Linked DNA regions of Homo sapiens: region 2 is linked to region 1. Evidence: fine-mapped expression QTL. A gene starts in region 1. The other region holds a variant in brackets. All regions are shown on one strand. Distances are between the middles of the regions. Region 1 holds the start of SCIN (scinderin). Region 2 overlaps SCIN (scinderin).

The links. PIP is the estimated chance that this variant, and not a neighbour inherited with it, causes the effect. A credible set is the group of variants that fine-mapping cannot tell apart.
Region 2: its variant is the best candidate, but not a certain one, in a credible set for the expression of SCIN in minor salivary gland (GTEx, PIP 0.52).

The regions. Positions count from the first base shown.
Region 1 is chr7:12,568,904-12,573,307 of GRCh38, reverse strand. It overlaps SCIN (scinderin), which reads right to left and starts at 2,588. Exons shown (of 16, transcript NM_001112706.3): 1 at 2,323-2,588. The coding sequence starts at 2,521. LOC107986768 reads left to right here. Exons shown (of 3, transcript XR_007060635.1): 3 at 1,927-4,404.
Region 2 is chr7:12,616,922-12,621,325 of GRCh38, reverse strand. The region is part of intron 4 of SCIN (scinderin); the gene reads right to left. Among named protein-coding and RNA genes, the nearest start is that of SCIN, 48 kb to the right of the region's middle. The variant A/G (reference allele first, on the strand shown) is at 2,664.

The DNA.
Region 1 (4,404 bases):
TTCTCTTTCTTCCGGCTGATTTCCTTTAACCAAATGTTCTTTTCCCCTGGAAGTTCAGCTCTCTCTCCTGTGACTTTCTCTCAATCTGTCTCTCTGATGAATCCTCATGGATTCATCCTAATTTAGGTCTTAGACTACACTATTTTGGATGAAATTCTGTTTTCTTAGGGAACTGAAGTAGGAAGAGCTGTTGGGCAATCCCATCTGAAAGTCCTGTTGACTATTTTACTTGAAGCTTTTTTTCTCTCCATAATTCTCTCTTGACACAAGAACACTTCCAAGTACTCTCATTTTTTTTTTCTCTAAAGGCTTCTGTTTCCCAATAACCACAGAAACTTTGTGCTTTCACAGTAATTATCACATTCTACCTGTGTTATATCACTTTTTGTCTTTTTGCACCTTTGAGGTGATGAACTTTTAGAGAAGTTTCATTAATTATTCATATCCACAAGTGCCTTGTACAGTACTGGCCATATTGAATAATTACTGAATGAATTTGCTTGTTATTAACATGTTATTGACTTCAGTTTTAGCATGTCTTTAAGATTATAAATGTTTCTGCCCAAACCATTTTCTATTATATTTTTGAAATTTATGGGCATCAAGTGGATAATTAAGTAGATAATTAAGTGAATAAGGTGAATCTGTAAACCCTACAAAATATAGTAGTTAAGAGGACAACTTGGATAAAAATGTATAGAATTAAAGAATTGTGTTCAAATCTCCCTTGCGGTCATCTGACAAAGTCAAACTTAACTGCTGTCTACAGTAAGATATGGCATTATTTCACATTTTAATTTACTCAAATGGCAAATGTGGCATTTCAAACACTTTCATTCATGCTAGATTTAAGTTCTGCATGGAAAGTCCTCTGTAAGGACATCATTATTCTATCTGGCATCATTCATTCTTGAACATGGGTTATAAAAGTTTCAGTCTTTTCTGGCAGAAAATACAAATAGATGACTGTGTATTACAACATTATAATAGGAATAACAGCAATGCATCAAGAAGCCAAAATGTGTTCAGAACTCAGGCTGAGCCTTCTCTGCCTCCTCAAGCTAACACAAATTTTTGACTCCAAATGTTATAATTAAAAGTCTTATCTTCATCTACGTATTTTTCATTTCTCATTTCTCAAATGCCTGTTCCAGGTGTTTGCCAATGTTTAGACAGTCACTACTCAATGTTTTCTATTATTTTGTTTCTTAAAATCTTCAAATGTTGGAAATTACAGTGTTGGCTTTCAGGGACTCAAAAATGTGTAAGTGTGTGTGGTTTTGTGTGTTTTCCTCCTAAGCTCAGGGATAAAACTAAACAAACACGAGTACTGGGCAGGCTAGCTAGTTTTAAAAGAAGGCAAAAAGGCTCAGAGAATCGGCATGTTGTTAGACAGGGTGTGCCCACTGGCACAAGACCTCCTGGGGAGAGGCTGGACATTCAGGATGTTTATGAGTAAAAGTAGAAGGTGGAAAAAGAACACACAAGGCCCAGTGTCCTGACAGCCTGGCACGAACGCAGCTCAAAATAATTACTACTGCTGAAGGAGCCGTTTCTGTTCCATCTTGTGTCCTTGCTAAAATAAATAATAAATAATAACAATAAAGCAGTCTACATAAATATATGAAATACCCATATAGAGCTATTTATTTGTATATAAAATATCTGTATTTTTTTCTTACTTCTATCTGAGGACGCCAGCTTCCGAATGAAGCGGAGTTTTTGTCTACCAGACCCACAAGCAGCATGGTGCGGGTAGAATCCTGTTTTAAAGAAGCCCAGAACAATAATTCCCGCAATCATAGAGAAAATAAGCCAGTGCCCGAAAGCAACAAATAAAAATAATGTGTGAAGAAAAAGAAAAGGACTTCTTCCTAGCGGCGGCAGATGCCCCCAGACTTTATGACTTCCTCTCCATCCCGACAGGGAAAGCAGGACTGAGTTTGTCGGAAGGTGAGCGGGGCTTGGCCAGAGACGGTGTGCGCTGAGGCAGCGGCCCTGGACAAGAGTGGCGTTTGGATACTTGACGGTGAAAGGGGAAGAAGCCAGTCACCAGCTCCAAAGTCCAGGAACTACACCTGGCAAAGGTCAAAGCCTGCGAGGTAAGTCAATTGCGGACAACGCCTGAGCCCCGCGTTTGCAGCCGGCGAGTTGACTTCGGTAGGGAGAAAGTGGCCGGCCCCAAAGGGCAGCCCCGTGGGGGCGCGAGTGGCTAGCTCAGTTTGCGGTCCCCTTTACTCCCACGCCTGCAAATCTCAGACCCCTACGCCCTCCCCTCGCCGGCCTTGGTGCGTCGGGGTCCCGCCGCCCGCCGTCCCTTACCGAGCCAGAAGTGCAGGTGGTAGGTGAAGCCTCGGCTCGTCTTGGCCGTGTGCAGCACCAGGTAGGCATCCCCGACGTAGAAGTCGCCGTGAGCGCTCTGGGGCACGGGCACCAGCTCCAGCTTCTCAATCCTCCAGACCTGCAGCCCCGCCTGCTTGCCCGCCCGGGCGAACTCTTCGTGGTATAGCTCCCGCGCCATGGCTCCTGCACGCGATGCTCCGGGGGACGCGTGATATCGCTGATCTTGGACTAAACCGAGAGCAGCAGGAGGAACCTTATTCGCCGCCACTTTATAGTGTTTGCCATCCGGGGAGGCGGCGCCCTGAAACGGGAGGGGCTAAGTGCCCAGGCGCGAGTTGACAGAGGAGACGATCGCTTCCCACGGGGAGCGCAGCGCTGGCTTCCAAGCTCCCACGCCTTGCCCCAGGCCAGGAGCGGAATCGGCGTCCCAGAAGTCTTGAGATTCAGAGGGAGTTTATAGTAACTCGTGCCAATGCCTCCTCCAAGGAAAGACATTTTCTCTAGCAATAGACGAAGAACATTAACGGTTAAAACTGCTTGGCACTCCTTTGTGCATACCCATCACTACCGTCCTGCATATTTCCCCTTCTCTCGCTAATCCTCTTATTTCTGGATCTCAGTTGTGCCTGGCAGGAGGGGTGAGGTGAGGAAAGAGCGCGCCAGCCCTGCAGAGTTGAGTCAGCGTTTACTCGGGTGGAGCAATACCTGTTCTTTCTGGCCCTCTAGAATAATTCTTAGAACAAGGCTTCCTCTGCTAATAGCAACACCTGCCGTTAGGCAGCAGAGGAGTGTGCCACATTAGCATGCTGGAATAATTTTAATACATCCTTCTTTAAAAAATGGGCTTTTTGAGTAACAAGCATCCTAATGATCAATTCTGTCATTTCATTGGGCAATCTCTGCATTCCTGACGACCAAAGTTTCTGTCTCGATCTTCCAGTTTGAAAATACCATGAAAAACAGCATGTCAGATTTCTTGGACAGGAAGAAAACCTGGAAGAATGGCAGTATTACCCCAGGTGACAGAGCTCTGTAAATCTCAGAGTTCAGGAGCTGTGGTTGAGCTCTCTTAACACCTGCTTCCTTTGGCCAAGAAAGATGAAAACAACAACAAAAACCCAGCAGCCGCCGTCCTGAGATGTTCTCTGCAGGGCTGTTTGTGGCTGTAATTTTATGCTTGGCCGGACTTCTGGGTTACCTGTTACCTAGCTTCAAGGTGATAATTTTCTTTGTTTTACCTACAGGTTTTGCTTTTGCAGCATGGCTAAAACACTATGGAATACAGATGGAAATTTTACTCTTGATTTGGCATTCATTTAACAAGCTGGTATAGCAAAGGATTCTGTTACTGAAAAAGGCAAATCACTCAGGATGTATAGAGTAAGAAAGCTGAATTTCATGCATGTAAAATTGTTTTCATTCAATTTCTCAAATTACATGAATCCCTGGAAGGTCAATAATAATGCAAAATTAGATTTTTTTCCTTAATTAAATTATGTTTTTAATAGGTTATTACATGACCATGGTAAAAAAATTAAAAGTACAAAATGTGTGCAATAAAAAATTATCTCCATTTCACCCTGCCACCCAGTTGCTTTCCCCAAAGGCAATTACGTTACCAGTTTCTTATGTATTTTTCCAGGCACTCAAATTTTGTCAACAAGAATATAGGTAATGTAGTTATTTTAAATTTTTAACAGAAAATGTAACATATAACCTTTTCGAATCCCCCCCCGTGTGTGTGTGTGTGTGTGTGTGTGTGTGTGTGTGTGTGTGTGTGTCTGTGTATCAACACACAGTACTCATAGAGCTACCGGTTTTTACTGACCATATGGTATTCCACTTTATAAACATACTAATTTATTTTGTCTATCTCAGTTCATAGTGTAGGGGCCAAGGGAAAACTTCCCCTCTACCCTCTGAAGTTTCACTGAAAAATCAAGTCACAAAAGGCAGATTAACAGGACAAATGGCATACAAATTTATCAGCGGGCATGGGGGAGAATCACAGAGTGATTGGCCAATATCCCAATGAGGTACAGAGGGTTGTACCTCCTTATT
Region 2 (4,404 bases), 48 kb before region 1:
TAGCAAAAACAGGCTTAACTCCAGAGGTAGAGAGATGCCATATATTGTCAGGTATCATCTCTAAGGATCACTTTAAAATTGAGCTCAACTAAGCATTTATCAAATATTTGAGGTCACTGGGGTATATAAATGAGTTTCTAACCATGTTGTCCAACACTTAAGGGCTTTACATCTGGCGTAGAAAGAGCAACATAACTAAATATGTTCACTTTATCAACTAGGCCATACATTTTGATCTTTGACATAAACTGTAAACACAGCTTGGAAGATCATGCCTGAATGTGAAACATTTTCATTTTGGGTTGCCCACGCGATTGGCATTTAGCTCATGTAATCCTTTGTATGTGAAATAACATATATTTTGACAATTTAATGGGGTACAAACACAGAGAAGCCTCATTTGAAGGTGTTACATAAAAATTTCGTCAGTTGTTCTAGCCAAGATGTATCTTGCAAGTTTGGAGCTCCTCTTTCAATTACTTTCTGTAAGTTTCTGTTTAAAAGTATTGCCGTCATCTAAATACTCCAAACTGAACTTATTTTCTACAAAATTAGCCACTCTCAATTCTCCATTTGTGTCAATGTATCTCTATTCTCTCCTCTTTATATGGACTTAAAATTATGTGGTCAGTTTTAAATACTTCCTCTCCTCCAATTTGGATCTCCTACCCACTTAGTCATTATTATTATTTTTAATCATGGTTAGTCACTGATTCCTGTTTATTCCTGGACACTGGCTGCAAGGCCCCTTATTTCACATTACTCCTATGTTGTAGGAATATGACTCTAGATCAAGGAAATCCTGTCATTTGCAACAACATGGATGAACCTATTGTATATTATGCTAAGTGAAATAAGCCAGACACAAAAAGATAAACAATGCATGATCTCATTAATATGTGGAATCCAAAATATCCAATTCATAGAAATAGAGTGGTAGAATGGTGATTGCCAGGGGCTGAAAAATAGAGGAAATGGAGAAATGTTGGTGAAAGAATTCAGACTTTCAGGTATAAGATAAATAAGTTCTGGAGACAAAGTATAGTATGATGGTTACAGTTATTAATAATGTAGTTTATACTTGAAATTTGCTAAGAGAGAAGATATCAAAATATTTTCATCACACACACACAATGTGAGTTGACAGATGTTAATTATATTGATTGTGGTAATCATTTCACAACTTATACTTCTATCAAAATATCACATTTTGTATATGACATTTTGTATATGACAAAGTTTGTACATATATGTCTATCATTTGATAGATATATATGTACAAACTTTGTCAATTATCCCTTTATAAAGCAGGAAAACATTTAAAATTTATTTTTAAATTTTAAAAAACTAAAAAATAAAAAAGATTTATATTTTACATCTGCTGCAGTGGTTCCTGAACTTCAATGTACTCAAGTAACACCTGTGTTACTTTGTAAATACAGATTCTTAGCTGCCAGCCATTGAGTAAATAAACAGGTCTATGGTGAGGCCCAGGAATCTGCAATCTAGATTATTCTGAATTGGGTGCTCCCACTGACCCAAAACTTCTGTCTGAAACCCAAGTCCCCTTCAGATGCTGAATGTCATCTACCCTGCCTTATTTCTCAGCATTCCCTACCTTGTACCTGTCTCTAATCAGGCTGACATACTCGGCATTCCATATGGAAGCCATGCCCATTCTTTCCCCGTAGCTAGCTAGGAGATTAATAATCGACCAGCTTCAGAGTTTCTCATGACCTGTCTCAAGACCACCCTTGGTGTTTGTTTATTTCTTTCCCTACTATGATCCAAGGTGAACTTTTCTTTTTAAAACTTAAGCAGGCTTATGTGGAAATTTGTATTTTCAGATAAAAGGATCAGGCAGCCAAGAAACAATTGCTATACTCTTTTACTCTCTTAATCCTTAGTTTTTCACAGCATGTACCTCTGTTTTTATTTATTTATTTATTTTTTACCTTTTAGTCAACTTTACCTACTTTGGATAAAAACTTCCAACATTTACACTGGCTTGTTCTCAAGATGTGGTTTCCCTTCTTTATACAAAAAAGTCAAGATGTTTGGCCACTTTAGAATAAATATTTGTAATGCATCATAAGAAAACAATAATGATGCATGACCTTGAAGAAGCACAATATGTAACTCAAAGCTACATATCACTGTGGATGAAAATGTGCCAAGCTGGTGCCAAGTCCTAAAGGCATTTATCATTGAGGGTCTTATGTGCTCCCAGCAGAACTCTGAGAGAGAGGCAGAACCTGTATCATGATTACTTTAACTTCATAGATTAAGAAAATGAGCCTGAAGGAAGTTAGGAGTTTTGCCTTAGATCCGTGTCTCATAAATATTAAAGCAAATATGTAAACCCCAGGCCTTCTAACCTCTACTTCAAAGCTCTTTATATAGAAAATGAGGCATTTCATTCTTCTCATCTTAATCATTTTAGGGTAGATGACTCTGTTTTATTTTCACTAAAAACAGAATCAGCTCACAGGTTCCAAGAATGAACATTTTAATTTGTAAATTCTGTATCTTACTTCTTTTCCTTAACTGAGAAACAATCAGTAGAGTGTAACATAGGGAGCATAGAAATAAATTGTAAGAGTGAAGCTAATCCTTGTTGTTATGGTATATTTACTTGCTGCAAGGCATTTTATGCCTTAGGT[A/G]AGACAAATATTTGATATTAGGGAAGATCCACAGAGATATAAAATGACCAGTTATTCCGAGAAAGCTGTGGTCTTATTTAGCCAGCTCCACCCACTCTGGATATAAGATTCCAACATTTACTCTGCTGCTCTCTCTCAGTGATGGCCTCAAAAATACCTTTATTCCTTTATTCATAAGTAAAATAGAGGGTGATTTCATATATTAAAGAATGGATAAAGGTATTTTAGAGGAGGGAAAGCATGTGAGGTATTTTAGAGGTAGGAAAGCATATTTGGATAAAAAGACAAAGTGAACTGGGCTTCTGCAAGAGATTTAGCTATAGCGCAGTGCTGTCCTGTAGAAATTTCTGCAATGATGAAATATTCCACATCTTTGCTGTCCCACACAGTTCTCACTAGCCATTTGTAGCTAATGAGTACCTGAAATGTGGCTAGTGTGACTGAGTAGCTGAATTTTACATTTTATTTAATTTTAAGGAATTTAAATGTAAACTTAAATAGTCACTCATGTCTTGAGGATGCCAGACACAGAGTGCAGCCCTAGAGGCCTCAGGGAATGCTGTGGCAGTGGGGAACTTATCAGGCAGGACTGGACTTCAGCATTCCTAGAATATCAGCGTATTAGAGGATAGATGTTGAAGGGTCAAACTCATAAGAAAATTACCCCAAAAGTTACTATAATATGGAAAGTTACCTTACAAGTTACTATAACACAGAAAGCAAAATCACAAGTCATTAAAAGCCATAAGCCAGAATGCCAACTTATTAAACAAGAGCAGTTGTTTTCACTGGCTGCATATTAGAACCATCTGGGCTGATATAAAAAAGAATGCCAATGTCTGAATCCAATCTCTAGAAATTCAGATTTATTTATTCTGATTGGAGCCCATGCATTGTATATTTGAAAAGCCTTCTAGGCCTGCTTTGGTGATGTGATTCAAGTGCTCTGTGGCATCAGCTTTGCTAGCCTGGTTTATCTACCTCAACCATTGGGATAGGTCTGCCAAGCATTTCTGAGGTTCACATTAGCTTGTTAGAACACATCTCCCCTGGACAAATTATTAGGGCCTGGTGGTCTGAGAGCTGCTCTGGGGCAAATCTCAGGTATTAAGATTTCAGGTCATTTGCCTTTTCTAGACATCACCAAACCTTTTTCCCTAAGGCTTCAAACCCACTTTGGACATTTCTGTCTGATCAGTGCTTGGATGAACGCTTCCGAAACTTGCCTTTGGGGTTCCTAATTTCTGTGCATTCTTCCATTGTCTTTTTGACACCTCCCTTCACTTGGCAGGATCAGGCAGGCTGAGCTGGGTGGAGCCGCTACTAAGAGTCTCTGTAATCTAATTTCCACACTTAAAATGGTATAATAAATAATATGGCTCAATTATCATGTGATTATTACTATGACTAGCATATGGTGAAAATTCAACAAATGGTAGATCCTGTACCCTTTCTTCACCTTTACATATGCAGAGTCAAATCTTTCCCTGGTCAAAGCATTACTCTTTCTGTCTTATACAACCCTGCAAATTACTGGACTAATCCTTTGCATAATGATTTTACCACTGGACTTCTTGCCACACACCTCCTCATGGACTTACACTTTATTATTTGTTCACGTACTGATCTAATGATTTTATAAAGCAGTCTATATGTCTTGGTAATGTACCTTTGTCAAAATCTTATATCTTAGATTTAAACTACAAATTGAATATAGACCTGTATATCCCTCTCCAGGCAA